Homo sapiens: one gene and its partners. The protein of the gene in region 4 purifies or fractionates together with the protein of the main gene of each other region. This does not show direct contact. Each region holds a gene or a part of one and is shown on either strand. Other genes may lie near its edges. The genes, in order: CCZ1B, AFG2B, MYO9A and CAPN2.

Region 1 (3,874 bases), on a different chromosome or scaffold from region 4:
TGACTATGAGGTGGACATCACAGTGCTCAAGGAGCCGGCAGACGTGTCATCCTCTCACCTCATACTGGACCCTCCCAAGGAGGATGTGACCGTGTCCCCATCCAGCAAGACCATCACCAGCAAGAAGAAGAAAAAGTAGAGAGACACGAGGACACACACACAGGCTTAGGATGGCACGTGCTGTAAGATTTCCTGAGCATTACAGTTCTTAGCACTGAACTCGTCACAGTGTTTTAACATACCCCTTGGCCCACTGCATCTCAGGTTTCCTACATGGCTGGATTACGGGAGTTCGAGACCAGCCTGGGCAACATAGTGAGACCCCCCCATCTCTGCAAAATTAAAACATCAGCCGACCGTGGTGGTGTGTACATGTGGTTCTAGCTTCTTGGGAGGCTGAGGTGGGAGGATTGCTTGAGCTCAGGAGGTTGAGGCTGCAGTGAGCCATTGCATTCCAGCCTGGGTCACGGAGCTGGTGGCCAGTGTAATCTATAAATAGGCAGCAGGAGAGAGACTCAACACCAAACCAGAATTTTAAAAACTTTTAACAATTTATTAGTCTTATTTTCCAGTAAAATATTCAAATAATGTCAAAAGAATGAAATGATAGCGATATAGCCAACTACCTTTAATTAATTCCACATAAATATTTAAAATCTAAAAACCTCAGATCAGCAGACCGAGTCGAAATCTGATTCTTCAAAGCAAGTATTGCTTTACCCTTGTCCTGAATGCAGTCCGTCATATGACCACTAACTTGCATGTGACCAAATGTTTGCAGAGTGTTTTTTAGATATGCTCTCGGTGAGCCGTCATCCGTCAATCCAAGAAGAAGATGTTGTTGAACTGCGTTGCACAAAGTTTCTTGACCTCTTCTGCAACAAGGACACAACAGTGAGGAAGGAAGAGGCAGTCACTTAAAAGGTTACATAATATATAATTAAATTCTTCTTGGGTAAAATTAGGAAGAGAGATTTGCATTGATTTTGACCTTAAATCCCAGAAGACTAGGCAAGAATTTTTTTTTTTTTTTTTTTGTTTGAGACAGAGTCTTGCTCTGTCACCCAGGCTGGAGTGTAGTGGTGTGATCTTGGCTCACTGCAGCCTCTGCCTCCCAAGTAGCTGGGACTACAGGTGCACACCACCACGCCCTGCTAATGTTTGTATTTTTTGGTAGAGACAGGGTTTCGCCATGTTGGCCAGGCTGGTCTCGAACTCCTAACCTCAAGTGATCCGCCCACCTTGGTCTCCCAAAGTGCTGGGATTACAGGCATGAACCACTGTGCCCAGCCAAGAAATGTTAACAAGTAGAAGAGGGGAAAAAATCCACCTACAAAACCTACCAGGCCTCAGGAGTTTTGAGCCTATCAACACTGCTGCCCGGGGCCTGAGAAACTGCAAAGTGCCCGGGACACCCAGGGGAGGGGGTTAGAAGCACAAGGCTGGTGACACACACCAAGCACAAGGTTGTCATCCTGGGACAACTAATGGAACAACAAAGAAACGGACAGCAACCTTGAGCTGCAGACCAAGTGCTCCGCAGAGGGGTCAGGATTTTGATCTTACCACATTCACAGTTTAGATCAGGCTTGCATTAACTGATGTTTCTAGTGCGCACAATGACTAACACAGGTATTACTAATAAAGAGAAAAATGTAGTATGCCCAAGATACAAGGGGAAAAAAACGCTTACACTGAATTTCCACACAGTGTACACGTGGGGCATCTCCCAAGGGGGCAGCTCTGCCGAGGTGAGGTCCCCTCTCTCCAGGGCAGCCGAGCTATCAGCACCGCAGCTGCCGGGTCACCCCGTGCAGTGGGCAAGGCTGGCCGCTTTGGCGGGAAGGCAGGAGAAAATGTCTGCCTCCTTCTGCCTGTGTACAGAGGGATACTTGTAAACGGCTATGTGAACCCGGCAGCTTCTCCCTACAAAAGATATGTTTTTATCACAGGATATTAAAAAAGGACATTTTGGGCTGGGCAAGGTGGCTCACGCCTGTAATCCCAGCTCTTTGGGAGGCCAGAGGATCACTTGAGGCCTGGAGTTTGAGCCCAGCCTGTGCGACAGAGCAAGACTCTGTTTCAAAAAAAAAAAAGAAATTAGCTGGGTCTGGTGACACATGCCTTGGTGATACATGCCTGTGGTCTCAGCTACTCTAGAGGCTGAGGTGGGAGGACTGCTTGATCCTAGGAGTTGGGGGCTGTGGTGAGCTATGATTGCACCACTGCACTCCAGCCTGTGTGACAAAGTGAGAACCTGTCTCCAAAAAAAGGGGGACATTTCTTAATATAAAGTCATTTTTTTTTTTTTTTAGAATTGTAGAAAATAATTTTCTTTCTGCCATTGCCAAGTTTCCTGTGCTACAGGAAGGTCTTGTCATAGTTTTCCAAGGAACAGAAAATGGATCAAATGTGGAGCAGAGGCACCTGCTTAGAATCTCAACAGTCATGATTTGTTCTATTTACCTATTTTTTAACCATGTTTCTTAATGCAATGAAAAGACAACTTCTCAAATTCTCCTGAAATACCAAATCCTACTTACCATTTACTTCAATCAGGTTTGCATTTTTTTGATTCAAAATAACATAGAGCTCCCGCCGATCAGACTTCTTTCCAACAACCCAGTAATCACTCATGGCCTTCACAATGATCTCCTCATCTTCATCCACTCTGCAAGACGAGGGTCAAAATGCAATTGTTCGTTACTCATACGGCCAGACTGTGAGAATAAGCGTTCCAAACCAAGAACAGGAAATGGAACGGGCGCACGTGGCATTTAAAAGGCTCAGGGAGTGCCGCGCGAGGGAACCGGTGACTTCAGGGCTCCCGGGTCTGTTTGGAAGCGGCGCCCATGAAGGTGGTTCACGCTTGAACCCCATGGAAAGGGCTTGAAGGGATTTTCTGTGTCTTTTCTCGTCTTAGAAAGGGGACGCCTGATTGGAGAAGTGGCTGGAATCACCTGGTAAAGTCACTGTTGATGTCACCGAGAATCTTCATTAAATCCGGGTGCACGGAAGTGAGCGACACGCTGGGCGTTTTCCTCATGTGAACTGTGCTCTTCTCGGCGAGATTCATGTGGTTGAAGTAGATAAACTTAAACTGGGGTTCTTTCTCAGACCTGTGAAAACATGTCACGAAGACAGTAGCACTCGGGCCGGATACAACTAGATTCTTCTTTTAAAATTTTTTTGAGATGGAGTCTTACTGTCGCCCAGGCTGGAGTGCAGTGACACGATCTCGGCTCACTGCAACCTCCGCCTCCCTGGTTCAAGCGATTCTCCTGCCTCAGCCTCCTGAGTAGCTGGGATTACAGGCGCCCGCCACCACGCCCAGCTAATTTTTGTATTTTTAGTAGAGACGGGGTTTCACCATGTTGGCCAGGATGGTCTCGATCTCCTGACCTTGTGATCCACCCGCCTTGGCCTCCCAAAGTGCAGGGATTACAGGCGTGAGCCCCCGCGCCCGGCCCTGGCCCTCTTTTTCTAAACAAAGTTTCACGGGAACCTCGCCATTGCCACATGTTCATGTGCTGTCTGTCTGCTTTCCCACCAAAATGATAGTTGAGTAGTTTTAACACGTATCTACATATAGCCCGTGACATCTGAGATACTTATTATTGGGTCCTTTACCGTAAAAGTCTGCTGACCCCTGCTTGAGGAGAGTAACACCTCGTTCCTCCCACAGTGCGGGGAATGAGTGTCCCGTGGAAATTAACCTGCCTCATGAGGGAAGCCTACGACACTATGTAACGAAGCTTTCCCTCATATCATCCCCAGTGGACATCACTGTAAAACGCAGTCGCCTTTTCCACTGCAGTCTGATGAACATTTTAAATGGGATATACCTTTTTATTTCTTAAACTGACTAGGCAGT
Region 2 (7,035 bases), on a different chromosome or scaffold from region 4:
TAGCTGGGACTACTAGTCCCCCACGTAGCTGGGACTAACACCACATTTGACTAATTTTTTATTTTTTCTAGAGATGGGGTCTCACTGTATTACCCAGGCTGATCTTAAACTCCTGGGCTAAAGCAATCCTCTCGCCTTGGCCTCCCAAAATGCTGGGATCACAGGCACGAGCCACCACGCCTAGCCCACTTCTTTCGCTTTATTTCTTGCCATTCTCCACTCTAAGATTCAATAATGTCACACCATCTCTTATCTTCAATCCTTTGCACATTTTATTCTCTCCACCTCAAACATTCCCCCTTCCCTTCTTAGCTGGCTAACTCCCGATTTGTCCTTCCAATTTCAGTTTATACATCTCCTTTCTCAGAAAGCCTTCTCTGATGTGCCAAATCTGGGCTGGTGTCTTTCCTAGGTGCTCCCACAGTACCCTCTACTTCCGCAACTCACTACATATTTTCAATTGCCAACTCAGTATTAAGATTTGCCTCTCTGCACCACCCTCCTCACCACCCCACACTTACAATAAGCTGTGTGAGGGATGGGGCCACATCTGTCTGTTTCACATCACATGGTACCACACAGGCTTTTAGTAAATACTGCTGAGTGAATGAAGATTTGAAAAGATGCAGAAATGTTTTGAACCACAAATTTCTTCAATAATTAACTTACTTCTGTGCAGAGGTTTCTAAGATCAGCTCCAGAAAAAAAACAGGTTTCTGCTGCGAGGTTTTCTAAGGAGACATCAGGCCCTATTGGCATGGTTTTTGTACAGACTTTTAAAATAGAAAGCCTGCCCTGGAACAAAATAAAAAACAGTATTTTAAATCTTATAACATTTATGTTTGACACAATGATTTATTAAAATATTTTTAGCTTGAGTTTCCTTTCACATTACCGAGAAAATATATATAGGGGTTAGAAAGACTAAGTCATCAATGGCTTATATGACAATGGTAAAAATAACGACATCATAAAAAACTTATGAATCTTTTTTTTTTTTTTTTTTTTGAGATGGAGTCTCGCTCTGTCACCCAGGCTGGAGTACACTGGCACGATCTTGGCTCACTACAACCTCCACCTCCCGGGTTCAAGTGATTCTCCTGTCTCAGCCTCCCAAGTAGCTGGGATTACAGGCGCCTGCCACCACATCCAGCTAATTTTTGTATTTTTAGTAGAGATGGGGTTTCACCATGTTGGCCAGGCTAGTCTCGAACTCCTGACCTCTGGTGATCTACCCGCCTTGGCCTCCCAAAGTGCTGGGATTACAGATGTGAGCCACCACGCCCGGCTAAATCTCTCTCTTGGGTACAAATAATACTATCAGACATGGCTTAAGAAGCAAATACATGAATTATCAGATACAACTTAAAGGTATAATAGATATTAAATTTTATTTTTCTATCCCTTCAAAACTTGATAAAAGCCCAAGGAACAAAAAAATTCACTCTGTGCCTTTCACCCTCCCTGTCAGTGGCTCTGGATGTTAACGACAAAAAATGTACTGGTTGACCATGATACACTGCATAATCTCTGTAATCTCAGATTTCTGCACCGTACTTTACGGACAACAAATTTACTGGTTGACCACGATACACTGCATAATCTCTGTAATTTCAGACTTCTGCACTGTATGATAAGGATGCTGACTCAATCTTCAAAGCCCTTTTAACACTTTAGGATTCCTCCACTCTAGTTGCAAAATAACGCTGAGTAGACTCAGTATTTAGAGTCTGCCACAACACAAAAAATAACCACCATATATTTAGGCTTATGTTTCTCTGTGAACAAGATCAGAGTATCCAACAAAGGAAGATCAAAATTATGATGTCATGAAAGGCCACCAGGCAAGGAAGAAGGCGGAACCCAGGGTAAGTAGAACACCATGGACACCTATATCCAAGTTGGAATTCAATTCTGCTGAGCTCACACAGAGTAAATGTGTAAATGACTACCTTGTGATCTGGAGGTGGGATATAGATGATCTTATCTAATCTTCCAGGTCGTAACAAAGCAGTATCTAACACATCAGGTCTATTTGTTGCTGCAATAATCATGACACTTCGGTTAAAAACTTCTTGAAACTCTGAGGGCAAACACACAACACAAAGTAATGTCAATCAGTTGTTAATAAGTTTTCTAAAAATTATAAATCAGAAGGTCTATTTAAATTCAAATAGGGATATCCTTTTCTTGGGACCAGAATGCTTATATCCGCTTTCCAGACCAGCTTCTTGATATCAAGATATCCCAGAAACAAATCATTAACCAAAGAGCTACTTTGTGTGCATGGCTAAGGGAGTAGCTAAGAGAAACATTCTCCATATGAGAACCTATGAAAAGCCTTATCCCAAAGGGGAGAACACTCATCTGGTGACTTGAGTGCACCTGAGCCTCCAATGAAGGCTTACACCTTAAACAGGCTACTTAAAAAGACAGATACTTATGACCAACCGGTGGAGATATATGGCTACAGAAAGTCTTGACTCTCATATCCCTAAAGAGGAAGATTTACTCGACCTTTTATTTTTCTTTGAAATGACAATCTAAGTTGCAGGTGCGCAAATCCTGGATAAAGAAATGTCTAAAAGCAGACAGAGAAAGGCTTTACATATACTAAGCATTCAAAATCATTTGTTGAATAATCAGGCAGCTCTCCAGTGACGTAATCCCTCAAAGTACAAAGTTCCCTATATTTGCAAGTATTTTAGCAGATGCTGGGTGAATACCTGTCAGATGCTATAGAAGGAATTCCTGCATTTTGAAATGATTTGATTAGATAACCTCGTGGATACCTCCTAATTCTAGTGTGACATATTCCTAAGGAGTGTATGCAACAATTCCATATGACAATTTTTAAAATAGGAAAAGAATGAGAACGAGAGAGGAATAAAAGAAAAAGTATCAGGGACAATTTAAGGATACCAAACTCATCTGGAGAAGAGACTCAGAAAGAGGGAGGGGACTTCCAAAGGCCATTTTAATTCATTAAAACCAAAGAAACTCATTCCTCAAGAAAACTGGAAATGTTCCATTACTAAGACTATTGGAAATAATAATCTCCTTTGTTTTTCATTCATTCATTCATTCATTCAGATATGGGGCCTTGCTATGTTGGCCAGGCTAGTCTCAAACTCCTGGCCTCAAGCAACCCTTCTGCCTTGGCCTCCCAAAGTGCTGGGATTACAGGCGTGTGCCACTGTGCCCAGTCTACATAAACATTTTTAGAAAGAAATGAATACTGGTTTTTAGGACATGCAAACAAGAATAAACTGCCTTCTCTATTAGCAATAAGTAAAATTATATTTCTCATTCTTAGGAAAAATAAAATTCACATTCTTATATTTAAGATAATTTATTATAAAATGTACCTCACCTTTCCTAGCCAAATCACAATTTTTATTAGCTCTAAAAGTCCTAACAAAGTCAAACTGAAATTATATAAATCCTTCTATGAGATGAATTCAGCATAGGTAAAGCTATAGCATATATGCATTATATTTAATGTTGGCCTGGATTTTAGGTGCATTCTGGCTAATAAATACCTCTTCATTTTTTCAGCTCCTTGTATTTACCCTGTTGACTTGATTTACTTCCTCTTCTCTCTATTGTCTTAAGTCCAACACCATCTAATTCATTCAGGAGAACAGAAAGAACTCGTTCTTGAACATCACATCCTGTCTTGCTGGCTGAGCGAGCTCCCAAGATTGAATCAATTTCATCCAAAAACAAAATTGCTGGAGTGCTTGCTCTTGCTTGTCGAAATATCTTTTGTTAGGAAAAAAATATTAAAAAGCTATATGTTATACATTAGTCATGTGATATTACTATTTATAATCCTGTTTTTTTTTTTTTTTTTGAGACAGTCTTGCTCTGTTGCTCAGTTTGGAGTGTAGTGATGCGATTTCAGCTCACTGCAACTTCTGCCTCCCAGGCTCAAGCAATTCTTGTGCCTCAGTCTCTCGAGTAGCTGAGATTATAGGGTGCGCTACCACGTCCACTTAATTTTTTTGTATTTTTAGTAGAGACGGGGTTTTGCCACGTTGGCCAGGCTGGTCTTGAACTCCTGGCCTAAAGTTATTCACCCGCCTTGGCCTCCCAAAGTGCTGGGATTACATGCATAAGCCACCATGCCTGGCCACTATTTATAATTTTTAAAATAGATATAAAAAAGATTCTGAATGTCTATGAATTGGGGAATGAGTAAATAAAACAAGAAACAATGGAGTATTATGTAAGAGTTAAAAACCATATTTTCAAAGAATACTATAAATTTCAAAAGTAGTAATATTAAGTTTAAAAAAGCAGGATAAAGCTATAGATATATAAAACCTACCTTTGATTTTATTTAAAACAGAAAAAAAGACAAAGGAAATTCACCAAAATGTTAACAGTAGGTAGGAGGATTATGAAGGATTTCATATTTACACTTTCCTATATTTTCTAAATTTTTCAATAAACGTATAAATTTTTTAACTGGAAAAAACACTAGTAATATTTTTAAAAAGGTTTGTCCATAAGAAATGAAATAAAAATTCAAAAGTAAATTTAAACATATGGGGAAATAAACAAACCTGAGACAACACTTTTTCTGAATCTCCAACAAACGGTGAAAACAGATCAGCTCCACTCACTGAAACGAAAGAGCAGTGACAGCTTGTGGCCAGGGCCCTCACCAGAGTGGTTTTAGCACATCCAGGGGGCCCATAGAGGAGAACTCCCTTTGGTTGTGTCAGGCCCATTCTAACAAATTCCCAAGGGAATTTCAGAGGCCACTCAATGCTCTGAAAGTACACAAAAAGAGAAGAGTTGTTTTAGTATAATAATAAAATGTCATATCATCCAGTAAATTCATTTCTTCATTTAACAATTCTCAGCCTCCTATTATGAGCTGGAAACAGTCCATTCTCCACACTGCAGAGATCTTATCATTTGAATCAGGTGATACCACTTCCTGTTTAAAATCCTTCAATGATTTACTATTAGAACTAGAATAAAATCCAAATCCAAACTCCTTACTCGCCACAGCTGACAAGGCCTTATATAATCTGACTGTCTCCTAAACACTTAGTTTGTTCCCATCTCAGAGCCTTTCCTTGCTTTTCTCTCTGCCTGAACGTTCCCCAAGATCTTCGTGTGGCTATCCCTCATCACTCAGGTCTCAGCGCAGGTGTCAATTCCTTGGAGTTAGTCTTTCCTAACTACCTGGTTAAAGCGGAACCCCCTCCTCCTACTCACTCTCTATGCTACTGCCCATCCTTTACTTTTAAAGCAAGTATTCACTATTATTATTTTTCCACGTTGGGTTTGTCATTCTGCTCTGCTAGAACGTAAGCAAAGCTCACCTCAAAATCCCCAGCAGCTAGAATGACACCTACCCAAAGGAGGCACTCAGTAACAGTAAACCGAATAATGAATGAGTCCTCATTACCTTTAAGGTAAATGGTTTTTAACCACTTTAATCATTATTTTACAGATGCAAAAAAACTCGGGCCTAAAAAAAGTTAAGTAATTTGCCTAGGTCTTACTGCTAATGAGGTGGCAGAACCAATACTGACCCCAGACAATGTAATTCAAGAGCACCAGCAAGGAGCAACGGTGTTGAAGTGGAGGTAGGAGTCAGATCACAATAGGCCTTGAAAGCTTTAGTCTGCACTGAGGAAGCAGTATGGAGAATGGACTGGAAGGAAATTAAACTAGAGGCAGGGAGACCAGCTACAAGTTTCTTGCAATGATTCAGCCTACAAAAATAATAAGGCTGGAGTGTCACAAGCAGTGAAGATGGTGTGGAAGGGATGGATATTTGAAACATAAAACAGAATTGTACTTTACATAGGGACAAAGTTCTGATGCTATGCCTTTAGAAGACAGATTTCTGACTTAGGGGATGGGGTGGCTGGCTGTATTAACTGAGGTAGGGAATCCAAGTGTGGGGGCAGAGCTGACTAGCTGAACTTTTTACATGCTGAGTTTGACATCCCTGGGGTTATCCAGTAGGCAGGCAGTGAAGTAGTTCTGATGATCAGAAGAAATGTCTACTCTAGATATACAGATTTCTGAGTCAACAGTTTTCAGGGATGCTGTGGACATCAAGATCATCATAAAATCACCCACAGCTCCAACAAGAGGAGGACTCTGGGAGCCTCTTGAGCACTAACATTTAAGGGAGGGGAGAGGGTGGCCAGAAAGGCAGAAAAGCTTAATGTCTCAAAGCTAAGGAAACAGAGTGCTTCCAACAGGAAGGTGTGGTTAATTTCTCTCATGCATCTTGTGAACATTAAATGAGACAATGCATAAAAAATATTGGCGCATATTATAAATGCTCTTATCCATGGACTCAAAAATTCTAGGGTTCACTGGAGATAGATCTCCTGGTTAAGATGAATAAATTATAATTATTACTTATATATCAGTCTGTTATGTGTGTGGTTAGAGAAACCTAGTTCATTAGGGCAGGATCACATGTAGGCGAATTGGCAAAATCAATTTCTGAAACTGTAACGCAGGTGAGAGGATCTGAAGAGTTGCGTCCCACAGCTTCCACTGTGAAATCCACTATCAGGTAGCCATATTGTTCATTTCAATTTTGTGCTTTTACCAGTCCCTGTACTGCATCCATTTAACGTCTTTTAGATCAGAGATCCAGGCAAACTAAGGCCTTCCACCTTTATTTGGTACAGCCCAAACTAAGAATAGTTTTTACATTTGTAAATGCTTGAAAAAAAATCAAAAGAATATTTTCTGACATGTGAAAATTATATAATTTCAGTGTCTATACTTTTATCAGAATACAATTACTAATTTACATATGGTCTACAGCTGCTTTGGTGCTACAACGGCAGAGGTGAGTGGTTATGACAGAGACTGTGGATCACAAAGCTTAAAACATTGACTATGTGGCTCTCTCTACAGAAATCTGTTGACCCCCGTTTTAGATTATAATTTTTTTTTTTTTTGAGACGGAGTCTCACTCTGTCCCAGGCTAGAGTGCAGTGGTGCAACCTCAGCTCACTGCAACCTCAGCCTCTTAGGTTGAAG
Region 3 (6,395 bases), on a different chromosome or scaffold from region 4:
AAAGCTGGGAGTTTGGGAAACAGAACTGACTTCCAGATAAGAAAACTAACATTCAGAGAGAGCGAATGCCTTTCCCAGACATGCAGTAAAGTTGGTAGCAGAACAAAAATGACAAACTGAGTTAAAATTTCTGTTCCTATTGCAATGTGTTGCTTTGAATTTCAGTGAGAATCCTTGGGCCCTCTATTGGCAACCTCTATTAGCAACTTCTTCAAGTGGCCAATTTAGGGGAGGATCCTAAATGCAGATTTACTGCTTTTCCTCCCTTCTAGCCTTAAACCGATTAAATGAAGTCTTGACAGCCAGCAGCCTGCATCCACTACAGAAAAAACGACACCTTGAATCACACCTTCACTTGAATTCAGTTGAGTTCCAGTGACTACCACCTCTGTGCTTTGTCAACTTTGGGTTGAGTCCTTTCCTGAAAACACATCAGTGTAACTAAGAAGTCACTGCTGTTTCTTGGAGTTGGGTTGGAATAGTTGGAGTGGGAGCCAGGATGGTTGGAAAACAAACCACACATATTGCTGCTTCTGGAAGCTTTGTTCTTTAATGAGCCATGGGGTGATTTGTTCATCAAGCTGCTTTTGTGTAGCCATACAGTGCATATTTTGAGTGACACAAACTGCACTTTATACAGATGGTATCTTGTTACCCCTCAACCCCCCAGCAAAGAAAAAAAAACAAAAAGGAAATTACAAAGTGCCTATTGATTGCATCCGGAATGTAATCAGTTCCGTGGGTGAGATAAATCATTCTTCTTATAGAATTATTCTATTAAACAGTAAAATGTTATATTTCACAGGATATGTCCTTTTATAATACAGTTTTTAAAAAAAATTTACACTCAGCATACTTATAAATTACTTAAAATCCATTAAAATAATATAATACGAATCTGTAGTCCACACCTTTCCCATAGTAAATACAAATACTTGGTTCAAAAGGTGCAACTTTTATATGACCTCAGAGGGCTGATAAATAGGCATTAAGAATGGATGACTAGCAAGGTGACAGGCCCATTGTTGGGGCTTTTTTGAAAATAGTTTCAACCAGGGGACCAACATGAGACCTAATAGATCCATCTCCACAATCATCATTTTGCTGTTACCCTTTCAATACCCAATCAAATGTGGGAGTCATTCCAGAGAAAAGTGGTTAAAAGTAGTCTAGGGCATAGAAAAAGAGGACTCTCACAGATACCAAGGAGTTTTACTACCAAGGCCAGCATGGTATTGCAGGACAGTGCTGGGGAGTTGTCACAAGAGTATGGGTGGACATAACACATTTGTCCATACAGAATGATGCATGCCCCGCATCCAGCTTCCCACCAAGAAGAAAAAAGAGAGGAGGATGAGGAAAGCCATGGAGTGAGTATGTATGTTTCTTTTTAAAATGAAAACTCTCTTAGCTTTGAACACATCCTGAGAATCCTTTCTTCTTTCTAGTTTACCAAAGTGCTTGTTACAGTGAAAAACACAGCCCACAGGCACTGAGGTGGGACTACAGAACCTTGCTGGACCACATCTTTTCAGCACATTTCTGTGACCCTCTGTTTTTGATGGAGAAAACAACGCTACTGTTATGAAACACAGAATGGAGTCTTCATTAATCTTCCAGCAGGGTAAGTGCTCTGGCAGGTTTCCAAAGCATGAGAAGGTGGGGGCTCTAGTATTCCATCCCAGGACCTCTGGCCCTTTTGTCTCTCTCTGCAAGGCTCATAGTTGGAGGGCTGTATCTCCCTTTGTGTTTTCAGAAGCCCAGAGTGGCAAAATAATTTAAATGGCAGGAGGTACAAAGTACGTTGTAAACTAAGCCTCCCTGAATCCTGCTGTATTTGCTGTTGATTTGCTTCAATTTGTGATACAGAATGAAATCACACTTCTCTGCTTTTGTTACATTTTCCATAATAAGTACATACTAAATTACAGGGATACATTCACTTTAATGGGCAGAGTTGAAAATTCAGGTTTTGTTTGGGGCTGGGAATGTGTGCTGTGAGAAGAGTGCTCTGCATTTTGGAGTATGGGCTCCAAATGTGGAGCTGCCCCACTGCTGCCATGCAGAGATCAAACAAGCAAAGGAGAAGCACTATGGAACCACAAATGTGATGCATATTAAGGGCTAACAGTTTCATAAGTGATTGTAATGCGGCATCACTTTGTGGTGACATAACTTTACCATGCAGAGGGCCAGTGAGAACAGATGGATGCAGACACAGCGTTTGGTTCTGAAGGTTTTTAAGAGTTATGGCTTCATCTCTTGATCAGGCCAACAAGGCCTACTACCCTATGTAAACAACGGCTTTCCCTCAAAGGGAGGGCCCCACACTGCTCTCCACTCTTATCATTTTGTGGCTCTCTCCTCCTCACCCACCCACCCCAATCCTGGCAGATTAAATTACTAGAAATCCACAAATCTAGCAACTGAAAAAACAAGTTTTTTTAATTGAATTTTATCCAAACTGGAGTTTCAGGTCCCTGAGAAAAATTATAAAGTCTCTTAACATCCATCACCTAGTTCCTTTAAAGTGACCTACATCAGTCGTTTTTTAACTGCCAAAAAACTTATTTTGCCAAAAAAGCCCCACAAAGATTTAGAAGGAAGAACATGTGCCAACATATGTTCTTCTGGCCATTCCTCTGGGCCACAGGAAATTATTCCATAAGGGCAATCTCTTTTTTTCATACAGGATTTAACCAACATTCTGGAGCAAGTGCAGAGTAACAATTAATGCCCAGCAGTACACTACTCTCCCAAGAACACTGAAACACAGACTGTGCAACCTGGCACGGGGCTGAGGAACCAGCAATCCCACTCTAACACACCATGCTGAGGGGTTTTCCTCTATCCTCTAGGAGATTCTCTGAAATTCAGATTTTTAAAAGCTTAACATTATTTATTACTCCTCAGGACAAGATGAACAAGGTGGCAGATGTCTGTGGGATATAAAGCATAACATTTGCTCATTAACTATCATTATTCTGGAGATTTTAATGGCTTCCTTTCTCTGGCTCAATTCTGAACCCAAAGTAGGGAGAGGTAAGACTCCTGCTACCTTTAGCTGCCACTCAGAATTATGCTCCAAGTCTAACCTCTGGGGCTGGCCAATAACCACTGAGGCAGTGGCGTGAGGTTCAGTGTTGTGTAACAGGAGAGAGAGACTCTGCCTTAACAAAAGACTTAATATTTCCACAACTTCAAAGAAGTATGAAAAGGAAGAATACCCAAAATACAGGTTATAGATGGTAAAGGCTCTTTTTCAGAGCAGTGCATGTAGTAGCAAGACAAGATGCATTTAGTAACTTTAAAAATAAACATTTCACATACTTATCTCAAGAAAGGCTATCATGTTTCATTTTTTATATATTATAAATAGCAAAAACAGATTTCTAATCCCACAAATGCTAAGATACTTAAAATGCTATTATAACTCATGTGTATGAAGACCACCCAGTGGTGAAAATGATGTCTTACTAATTCCCTCAACCCAGGGACGAATGGCTCTCATCCCCCTGTCCAGTGGCCCCTCATCTGTGGGAAGAAATTCCATGGGAAGGAGGGAAGCACAAGGTTAAAAAGAAATATGCCTACTATACATACATATTTACAATAAACTTCAGTAACCAGAATATTAACAAAAATAGCTTCAAGTAGTCCTTGATTTTTTTCCATCTATTTAATACTGATAGTCTGAGAAAAGGAAGATAAAAGTTAGTTAGTTAGATAGGTCATATTAAAAACCTTTTTATTTTTTGGCAGCTTTCTGTAACACTTACTTACTTATTCATGCAATATTGTATGTGAATGTTTTTGGAAACTAACTAAACGGTCACATTATTTGTTTGTTTGTTTGAGTCTGAGTCTGTGGTGGGAATCCACCAGCAGATGAACAGGCTCATATGCGGTTTTCGGTTTAATCTATACAAAGAGAAAAGCCTGAATGGCTTAGGATGAAACCTTCATAAGTTTAGGGATCACCATGTCTCTGGGAAACTAAAAAATAATGTAGAAGAATCTGATCCTAGGACCAAGAAACATGAGAACAGTATGGCTACTGACACTTCAGCCCATGCAATGTATTTGGCAGGAACTAAACAGGAGTTAAACCAGCACTGATTACTATGACATCAAACATCATCAAAAAAAATAGGTATTCTCTTCTTCACTGTATAACAAGATATCTGAGACACGCTCTGATGGCTTAATGGAAACAATCACGGTTTTTTTTTGTTTTTTTTTTTTTGTTTTTTTTTTTTGTTTTTGCTTTCCCCAGAATATAACATGGAGTGTTTTTTCAGAAATCTTAAAATAGAGGGATTAGGCTTTTTGTTTGTAAGTAAGTTTTTGGAAAAAAATTATATTCTACCCTAGCTCCTAACTATCCCAAAATAAACCCAAAGGCTTTTGCTTTCACGGTTAAGAAAGATTTATACGTTTTCTTCAAATGTCAGAAATGAGAGGGTCCCTCAGGACAGCAATATCCCCCCTAGTTCAACACCCACCTTTGGGAAGGGAAAAGAGGGTGGGGGAGAGGCAACTACAACTGACCCAAATCCCCAGGCCCTAGGTGGCTTTGTATAGTAAAAATCTCAATTCAAATACAACAGCCAAGGCACAGCTGGCACCATCCCCAGCAGGCTTTCTGCTTCTGCAGGAGGCCCAGGAATTCAGCACATACAGTCTTAGCCATATGCTTAGAAAAGAGGCAGGACCACAATTAGGATTGACTATTGTGGACGAGGTGATGAAACGCAGCCCCAAAGGTGAGATTTGTTTACCACTCTGTAGCCACGGAGGGACACACATCTGCCGGTTCAGACCATAAATTCATTATTTCCAAAGAGTGCTAGCTGTTGGTTGGAGGTGCAGTCTGGGTCCACAGTTTTTCTGCGGCCAGACATGACTGTCCCCTCTGGGGTCTCTTTGGTTTTCTGAGGTGAGTTTTTCACATTCTTTAATTTTTGTTTGCCCTTTTCCGGGTTGAAGGTTCCTCTGCTGATGAACTGAGGCTTGTCTTCCAGGAATTTGGTCTGGCCCAATGGTCCTTCCATTCCCAGGGCCTCATTACCTGAGGCAGCTCGGTAGAATGGAGATTTGGAATAAATCTGAAATAGTTTTCTGGTCCCATGAGATGATGCCGTGTTAGACAGACATAAAGAGGAGACCGAAGAGTCCACGACATCTAAAGAGTCTTGCTGCTTTTTAAGTTGCTTTCGCAACTTGCTGGAAGGTTCAGACTTGCCAGCTGTCTTCAGGGAGCTAAGGGCTAAGCTTCTTTCTAATGCAAAAAAGAGACCAAAGATGTAAATGACAGTGCCCTCTAAAGCAAATCATCATATAATGAATAGATGCCACTGTTCACACATGAAATTGGGTGGGATAAGATTCAGAGGGTCCAGGATGACTTACTATGGGCACAGTCACAGTAAGAGCTCACCATCCATTTCTCTATGTAGCATTTCCGAATCATCTCCAAGGAAATCTGGTGTTTGACTATGCCATCAGCGGAGGCCTAGAACAGTCACTATCATTTCAAAAACTGCCAGGATATGCAGGTAAGTCCTACATCTCCCTGAGACATGCCACCCAGTTAAACACCTCCTTTGTATATGTATATAGTCCCACCTCACAGTGGGGGCACAATGCCTGCCACCCTCAGAAAATGGGTTATGGGTCAGTAAGACAACATATATTGTGATTATTGGCTTTTCTCTGTGGTAAGTACAGGATAAAACATTAAATTACCAAAAAACAAAACAAAACAAAACAAAAAACAAAAAACTCAATCACGTTGAAGAGTTGGTTTGATAAACAATGTATATGGAAGCTTTACAAAGACAACAGGAAAAAAAAGACCTTCCGTGGAAGTCAGGAATCTAAGTAGCAAAGACAATTATATTTCTTATCCCCTTATATTTCTTATCCCCATCCAGGTCACTACCTGTATGCCAAACGATGAAGGCTAAAATTATATGGATAAAAGGACAAAATTCCTCAAGACTTTGTTATTGCTGATGTACAGTCAGTAAATTCTTAAAAGACTTTGTCTTAGTTTTGGAATCTTTATTCCTCCTTTGCAAAACAAATCTGGAGTCTTTGGTCTACCATGTTCACTTACCTGATTTCTCAGAGATAGCATATTCAGACTCCATATTCAAATTCTCTGAGCTATCAGCAGTCCCAATGGAGGCCTCAGACTCAAGGGTTTCATCATCAGAGGCACGGGGTTCCAGTACAAGCATCTCAAATGTTAGCTCCTCCCTGTAAGACACAATCAAGAAACCATTAGCATTTGATAGGAAGTGGAAGGAAGATAACAGAAAAAAAGATCCTCCATGGAAGTCAGGAATCTAAGAAGCAAAGAGAGTCCATTTTTACTGTCCCCATCCAGG
Region 4 (7,954 bases):
GTGTTTGCAATTAAATTTGGGTGGCATAGGACAGCCTAAAGCCCTTTGTAAGCAGAGCTCTATGTGCGCAGCGATCCCTAGAAGGCTGGCAAGGGGAGTGGCCAGGGCTGCACCAAAGAGGGTGTTGCCTAGCTGGGGAAGAGGAACTTCAGGTGAGCCAGGAGGCTCTTCTGCTCCCAGGCTGTGCAAAGCTTCTGAGTTGACTGGAATGATAGGTCTGATCTGCCCATTTGTTGCTAAAATGACTTAGGAGGGAAATGACCTCCACCTGCCTGGGAGGAGTCACTTCCTCCAGAGATGAGCTGTCCTTGAGGAGATCAGTGGGAGGAGAAGCCTGCGCTCTGCCCCACTGGGCAGAAGGACAAGCTTTCTCCCAAGAGCCTCGAGCCCAGAAGAAGTCGGGGTGGGGCCAATGGAAATCAGACAGTGGAACAAATGAACAGCTTCCAGGACAGGGCTGTCGCTTTCCTCTGTTTTCAATTGTGATGGCTTCATGAAACCCTTGCACCAGAAACCCATGAGCTAGAAATGAATGCCTGTATCCCCATCTCTGGACTCAGAGTCCAGAGTGCCAACCATTACACAATGGAACCTGTGTCCCCGCCTTATTCAAGAGTAAAGAAAGCAAAGCCTGGTGGTGGACGGTGGTACCTGCCCATCAGGCAGCATGCCCAGACTTGCAAACCAGAGATGGAGGATGTCAAATAAAAACAAAACCATGGGAGACTGAGGCAGGAGAATCACTTGAACCGGGAGGCGGAGGTTGCAATGAGCCAAGATCGCGCCATTGCACTCCAGCCCGGGCAACAAGAGTGAAACTCTGTTTAAAAAAAAAAAAAAATCCAGACTTTTATAAAGGGACACTTCAATAGAAAGAAAGACTATTGCAGGCCAGGCGCAGTGGCTCACACCTGTAATCCTAGCACTTTGGGAGGCCAAAGCAGGTGGATCACCTGAGGTCAGGAGTTCAAGACCAGCCTGGCCAACATGAGGAAACCCCGTCTCTACTAAAAATACAAAAAAATTAGCTGCACATGGCGGCTGGTACCTGTAATCCCAGCTACTCAGGAGGCTGAGGCAGGAGAATCACTTGCACCCGGGAGGCGAAGGTTGCAGTGAGTGGAGATTGCACCACTGCACTCCAGCCTGGGCAACAAGAGTGAAACAAGAAAGAAAGAGCGAAAGAGAGAGAGAGAGAGAAAGAGAGAAGGAGAGAAGGAGAGGAAGGGAAGAAGGGAGGGAGAAAGAAAGAAAAAATAGAGAAAAAGAGAAGGAAGGAAGGAAAAGAAAGAAAAGAGAAGAGAAAAGAAAAAAAAAGAGAGAAAGACAATTCCAATTCAGAGAATCTGCAAGCAGCTCAAAATCAAACAGAAAAAGATTCTTCTTTTCTAGGGTAAAGGAGGAGCAAGTGGAGATAAGCAGACTCTTGGGAGGGGAAGCTGGACAAGTGAGGGGAAATGACCAGTGGGAGCTGACAGGAAAAGGGTCTTGCTGTGTTCAGTCAATTCCCAGGAGAAGCTGGGCAGGGAAGTGACTTGGCAGGGACACTCCACTTTGTTTGTGCTTGTTCAGGCTTGGGGGCAAGCAGCATTCAGGGATCTGTAGGAAAGAGAGAAGTCTGACCAAAGTTTTGTCAAGCAAAGGGGGTAAGCAATGGGTGTCAGAGACAAGAATAGATGGGGGCAGAGGAATAATAGTGACAAAAATACTTGCTTTAAGAAAAGGTAACATCATGGCTCTCATATTAGTATAAAATAAACACATTTTAAAGATTCCATTTCGGCAGGGTGCAGTGGCTCACACCTGTAATCCCAGCACTTTGGGAGGCAGAGGTGGGCAGATCACCTGAGGTCAGGAGTTCGAGACCAGCCTAGCCAACGTGGAGAAACCCTGTCCCTACTAAAAATACAAAATTAGCCAGGCATGGTGGCAGGCACCTGTAATCCCAACTACTCGGGAGGCTGAGATAGGAGAATCACTTGAACCTGGGAGGTGGAGGTTGTGGTGAGCCGAAATTGTGCCATTGCACTCCAGCCTGGGCCAACAAGAGTGAAACTCCATCTCAAAAAAAAAAAAGAGTCCATTTAACTTGATTAAACGAGGCAATCTGGTGGATGTTATAACTGGTTCAAAGGAGAAACCAAAGCAGCACAATTTACATGACGTGAAGAGTACTGAAATGGAATATGCAACTAGACAAAAAACTGGTCTCTCTACAGGGGGACTGTAGTGCCTCTACTGGACAGAATGCATTTGCATATCTATAGGAAAAATTATTTTCCATTGCTACAGTTATCTACAACTTAGATTACTTACTTAGAGTTACTTAGGTAACTATACATTGCTACAGTTATATACAACTTAGAGTTATAAAATAACTCAAAAACAATGAAAGGGGCTCGTGTGGTGGCTCACACCTGTAATCCCAACACTTTGGGAAGCTGAGGCAGGCGGATCACCTGAGGTCAGGAATTCGAGACCAGCCTGGCCAACACGGTGAAACCCCATCTCTACAAAAAATATAGAAAATTAGCCAGATGTGGTGGTGTGCACCTGTAATCCCAGCTACGTTGGAGGCTGAGGCAGGAGAATCGCTGGAACCCGGGAGGCAGAAGATGCAGTTAGCTGAGATCGTCAAGATCCTGTCACTGCACTCCAGCCTGGGTGACAGGGTGCTACATCTCAAGAAAAACAAAAACAACAACAACAACAACAAAAACAATGAAAGGCTAGACCCAGATCTTCTGGAAGGAGATGCTCTAAACCAGGGTTTCTCAGCCTCTACATGACTGATGTCTTGGACTAGATCATGTTTTGGGTGGAGAATGTAAACCAAAAATAAAATTCTAAGCCTCCCCCTCCCCTACCCCCGCCAACCATCTAAATGGATGGTTCCTCCTTAGCCGAGGCTCTTAAAATTTTAACCTGAAATTTTCAGGCCATGAAGGAAAGGCAAGGTCGGACATGCTTCATTATACCTCTCCAGCGTGAACATCAACCAGAGTTTAGGTCTGATAAGAAACATTTTACTGCCTGTTCACTCTGAAGCCTGCTAGCTAAAAGCTTCATCTATGTGATAAAACTTTTGTCTCCACAACCTCTTATCGCAACCCAAACATTCCTTTCTATTGATCCTGGGCCTTTAGACAAACTCAACCAATTGTCAACCAGAAAATGTTTAAATATTTACCTATATCCTGGAAGCCACCCCCACTACCCACCCACCACCCCCCGCCACTTTGAGTTGTCCCGCCTTTCTGAACCAAACCAATGTATTTCTTAAATGTACTTGACTGATGGCTCTTGCCTCCCTAACATGTATAAAACCAAGCTGCACCCCAACCACCTCGGGCACATGTCCTCAGGACTTCCTGTGTCACAGGTGTGCATCTTCAACCATGGCAAAAGAAACTTTCTAAATTAAATGAGACCTGTTTCAGATTTTCTGGGTTCACAAGAGCTATCTTGGACATTGGAAGATGTTCAGCGGCATCCCTGGCTTCTACTTAGTAAAGGCCAGTAGCACCTCATCTCCTAGCTGTGACCATAAAAACTATCTCCAGACATTCCCAAATGTCTCCTGGGGTGGGTAGGGGACAAAACTGCCCCCAGTTGAGAACCACTGCTGTAGACCATGCACAGTTTTCCAGTGAAACCCAAATTCTTCCCTACTACTGTAGAGAAGAAGAGGAGGTAATTTCTGCCCATCTGCATTTCTTGGCACGCACCCATGTCTCTGTGTGTGAGATGAGAATCACACCCTAGCTCCACAACAGAGTGGTCACAGTAGCCAACACAGGCAGTATTCTAAATGCTCTCTCCCTATAGTAACCCAACTAATCCTGCCAGTTAAATATGAGTTTCAGGTAAACAATGAATCATATTTTCTTTTAGAATAAGTATGTATGCCCATGCAATATTTGGGCCCTACATATACTTTAAAAGTATCTGTTGTTTATCTGAAATTCAAATTAAACATTTGGGAGGGTTGTTGTTTTATTGGCCAAATCATTTTATTTTATTTTATTTTTGATATGGAGTTTCGCTTTGTCACCCAGGCTGGAGCGCAGTGGCGCGATCTCGTCTCACTGCAACTTCTCCCTCCTGGGTTCAAGCGTTTCTCCTGTCTCAGCCTCCCGAGTAACTGAGATCACAGGTGCCTGCCACGACGTATTTTTAGTAGAGACGGAATTTCACCATGTTGACCAGGCTGGTCTCGAACTCCTGACCCCAGGTGATCCGCCTGCCTCCGGCCTCCCAAAGTGTTGGGATTACAGGTGTGAACTACCGCACCCAGCCTTATTGGCCAAATCTGACAACCCTATCTATAATCAAATAAACAGCTGAGCAGTAGTAATTGCAGCATTGTGATTGCAATAGGCCTCCGGTGGCTTAGAGTCCCTGTTCTGCCTGTGACTGTTGTGCCACATTGGGGACGTCATTTAGCGTCTCCGAGGCTCAGTTTTCTCATCTGTAAAATGGGGACAATATCAGCGCCTTCTTCAGAGTCGCTGGGAGGATTAAATGAGATGATGTATGCAGAGCCGTTAAGACGCTGTTTGGCACAAAGTTCAGGGCAGCTGGTTTAGTTTCCTCGACTTCACTACCTGACCCTCTGCTAACTCCCCGGGTGTTTTCCGGACGGCCACAACTATCCTAGCCTTCTTCCCTATGGGCTGCAAAGGTGGCCTCGGGTTCCGGTGGGAGCCCCAACTCTGGACCGCGATTCGCGAGCCTCCCCGGCGCCGGGCCGCGCCATCCCGGGAGCTGTCCGCAGATGGCAGCACCGGCCCCGGGTCGCGGCGTTCCCGGCGCTCGGCAGGCCGCAGGATGGCCTGGTCCCGGGCCGGGAGCCCAGCAGGCCGGGAGCGGCTGAGGCCACACCCCGCGGGCCGGGCCGCTTCCCTCCGGTGAATCATCGCTCGCAGCGGCGGCGCCCGCAGTGGCCGCAGCAGCGCGCCGGGCCCTGGCCGCGCCCCAGCCGAGCGCAGCGCGGAGTCGCCCCGACCTTTCTCTGCGCAGTACGGCCGCCGGGACCGCAGCATGGCGGGCATCGCGGCCAAGCTGGCGAAGGACCGGGAGGCGGCCGAGGGGCTGGGCTCCCACGACAGGGCCATCAAGTACCTCAACCAGGACTACGAGGCGCTGCGGAACGAGTGCCTGGAGGCCGGGACGCTCTTCCAGGACCCGTCCTTCCCGGCCATCCCCTCGGCCCTGGGCTTCAAGGAGTTGGGGCCCTACTCCAGCAAAACCCGGGGCATCGAGTGGAAGCGCCCCACGGTAGGAAGCGCGCGGCAGGACGCGGGCAGGGCGGGGTGCCGGGCAGGGCGGGGTGCAGGCCGGCCCGCGGCGCGCTGGGGCGGGGGGCAGCCCGGGTGCTGCAGTGGGGAAGCCGCAAGCCAGGACCTCGCAGTCCTGCGACACCTCCGCGCCGCCAGAGCCCGGGACTCTGTTCGAGCGTGGGGGGACTCCCGGGGCCTTCCCTCTCTTCCACCCACCACGCTTTCCTGGGCGGGTCGAGGCGAATCACTGCCCTCAGATCCCACTAGCAGGCCACTTTAGGACTTCACAAAAACTCAGGGTGATGCAGGAGGCCGGGGTGAAACTTTGATTGGACTCTAGCGGGGAGCTGGAAGGGAAGGGGAATCGGGTCTGCAGGGAAGGGACGGTGAGAGGCAGCATCTACCAGACAAAGTCCGTCTCCAACTGGGGTTCTGTCTGTTCATGGAGGGGGACAGGCCATAGCCTGGTCATTTTGTGACTAAGGATAGTCTCCTGCAGCCCTGGGGTTAGATTTATTTTTCCAAAGGGGAGCCAGCGATACCTCCTCATAACATTGACACTGGTAATTAACCCAGGACACGGAGGTGTCTCATGGTTTCCCTGGCGGGAATCACCCGGGAAACCTCCGGGAGCCCTCCAGACCCCCTTATCCCGTCCCCCAGGGTCTCTGACCTCCCGGCCCTGGGACAACTTGTGCTCCCCAATCTACTTGTCCATTCTGTTTCTTGGGGAACCCCTGAGGCTCCTCCTCCTTTGGGACACTTCCCCAGGCTTCCCCTACCACGCCTAGGAAAGCCTGCCCTGAAGTCCAACTTCTAGATTCCTGTTGTGAGAACAAGGCTTCCAGCTCTGCTTCCACACCCAGCAGCCTCCCAGGTCACCTTCTGTTACCCTAAATCCAGCCCATAGGTAGCAAGGGCTGCAGGAAGCGCCCTAGCCCAGACTCAGAGCACTTGGGTTCTTCTTCTTGCTAACCTGCTGGTGACCTTGAACGAGCCATTTAACCTCTCTGTGCCTCCATGTCTTCATCTAAAAGAAAACATGCTGCCTAAATATTTTCTCTCTTTTGTGGCCCACTAGGCCCTGCCGTCATGGCCTCCTTTCAGTCTCTCAAAGAGCCGGTTCTTTCCTGCATGAGGCCTTCTCACCAGCAAGGCACGCTGTTACCTGGAGTGTGGCTCACTCTCATTCTTCCCAACTTAGTCACATGTTCCCTTCCTAAAGAGGTCTTTTCTGACCCTTCTTAGCAGCCACCTCCCCACCTTGTTTTTCTCTGTCACCCCACTCATTTCCTTCATAGCATTGTCACAGTTTAGAATATAATCACATGTATTTGTTCTTCCTACTGAACTGCAGGAATCATGTGTATATTATTTACCAGTATATCCCCAGTGCCTGACACATAACCATGCCTTTCACAGTATTCATTCATTCATTCATTCATTCATTTACTCACTCATTTGACAACACTGATTGAGCACCTGTTACATGCCAGGCACTGTCCTGAGAGCTCAGGAGATACACCAGTGAACACAAAAGAAGTGACTGTTTGTAGAATATGGATGCAGGATTGTAATGTGCCTCAAATGAAATTATGGTTGTGAAAGTGATACGCTGACCTGACTCAGTGCCTCACACCTGTAATCCCAGCACTATGGGAGGCCAAGGTGGGAGGATCGCTTGAGCCAGGAGTTCAAGACCAGCCTGGGCAACACAGTAAGACTTGTCTCTATAAAAAAGTAAAAAAAAAAAAAAAAAAAGTGAAACACAAACCAAGAGAATGTGTTCACTTTACATTTGCATGGCACTTTACAGTTTACATAGTGAGTTCACATACTCATTCACTTATTCTTTCATTCATTCAGTAAGCATTTCTCGAATACCTACTATATGCTGGGCACAATGCATATGGTTTCTGCTTCTGAAGACTTACTTCTGAGGCTAGTGAGGGGACAGAGACAGGTCCCCCAACAGTTGGAAATGCCTGTGGGACTTCCAGATGAGGATGTAGAGGTCTAGAGATGATCTAGCGCCACTGCTTAGGGCAGGCGGGCTGTGCACTGCACAACTAAGGAAGAGTGTGACTTTTACGATCCCCATTTGCCAGTTGAAGAAATTGAGGCTTGGGAAGGTTAAATACTTGCTCAGAGTCAAGTGGATATAGGGCATAGATCCAGGACTGTGTGTAGTCTGTGCATGTTGAGCCTACCCCTTATGGCTGCGCTCTCTGCCTCCTTCCTACCTTCTCAAATGCTGCTGAGGTCAGGCAAGGGGAGCACAGTTGTTTCCGCTGGATTTGAACACTAGCAAGTCATTGGTGAGTTTAGCAGAGCAATTTCAATGGAAAGGTGAGAGTAGAAGCCAGATTGTTGTAGACTCCAGAGTAAAGGAACTGGAAATTAAGAACATGATCAACTTATTTAAGAAGGACCCCCGGGAAGAGAGGAGAACTGATAGGTAGAGTAGGACCTGGACTTTGAGAGCCTGTGTTTTTTTCATATGAGAACAACTTGAATGTGTCATATGTTGAATCACCAGGAAGAAGGGATTAAAGATAAAGGCAGGGAGGGGGCAGTGAAACAGGATCCCTGAGGAAGTGAGAATACGGGTTGTGGGCAGGGGAGGGGAGCAGGTTAGCCTTGCAGCAGGAGGAGCTGCTCTTCCTCGGAGA

What was found.
Region 1: the proteins of CAPN2 (region 4) and CCZ1B purify together in Homo sapiens (co-immunoprecipitation; 2 studies listed by IntAct). This does not show direct contact.
Region 2: the proteins of CAPN2 (region 4) and AFG2B purify together in Homo sapiens (co-immunoprecipitation; 3 studies listed by BioGRID and IntAct, with this or other methods). This does not show direct contact.
Region 3: the proteins of CAPN2 (region 4) and MYO9A purify together in Homo sapiens (co-immunoprecipitation; 2 studies listed by BioGRID and IntAct, with this or other methods). This does not show direct contact.

What each region holds. Positions count from the first base shown.
Region 1 is NC_000007.14:6,798,405-6,802,278, forward strand, and holds the end of CCZ1B (vacuolar fusion protein CCZ1 homolog B), read right to left. Parts: intron 3,120-3,874; coding exon 2,961-3,119; intron 2,672-2,960; coding exon 2,544-2,671; intron 876-2,543; coding exon 820-875; 3' UTR 533-819; downstream 1-532. Other genes in the region: RSPH10B2 (radial spoke head 10 homolog B2), read left to right, coding at 1-139.
Region 2 is NC_000015.10:45,412,317-45,419,351, reverse strand, and holds part of AFG2B (ATPase family gene 2 protein homolog B), read right to left. Parts: intron 4,782-7,035; coding exon 4,572-4,781; intron 3,766-4,571; coding exon 3,573-3,765; coding exon of another isoform or gene 3,547-3,572; exon of another isoform or gene 3,447-3,546; intron 2,084-3,446; coding exon 1,953-2,083; intron 796-1,952; coding exon 670-795; intron 1-669. UniProt on the Homo sapiens protein: ATP-dependent chaperone part of the 55LCC heterohexameric ATPase complex which is chromatin-associated and promotes replisome proteostasis to maintain replication fork progression and genome stability.
Region 3 is NC_000015.10:71,821,763-71,828,157, forward strand, and holds the end of MYO9A (unconventional myosin-IXa), read right to left. Parts: intron 6,265-6,395; coding exon 6,122-6,264; intron 5,282-6,121; coding exon 4,818-5,281; 3' UTR 529-4,817; downstream 1-528. UniProt on the Homo sapiens protein: Myosins are actin-based motor molecules with ATPase activity. Unconventional myosins serve in intracellular movements. Regulates Rho by stimulating it's GTPase activity in neurons.
Region 4 is NC_000001.11:223,707,598-223,715,551, forward strand, and holds the start of CAPN2 (calpain-2 catalytic subunit), read left to right. Parts: upstream 1-4,941; 5' UTR 4,942-5,043; coding exon 5,044-5,280; intron 5,281-7,954. UniProt on the Homo sapiens protein: Calcium-regulated non-lysosomal thiol-protease which catalyzes limited proteolysis of substrates involved in cytoskeletal remodeling and signal transduction. Proteolytically cleaves MYOC at 'Arg-226'.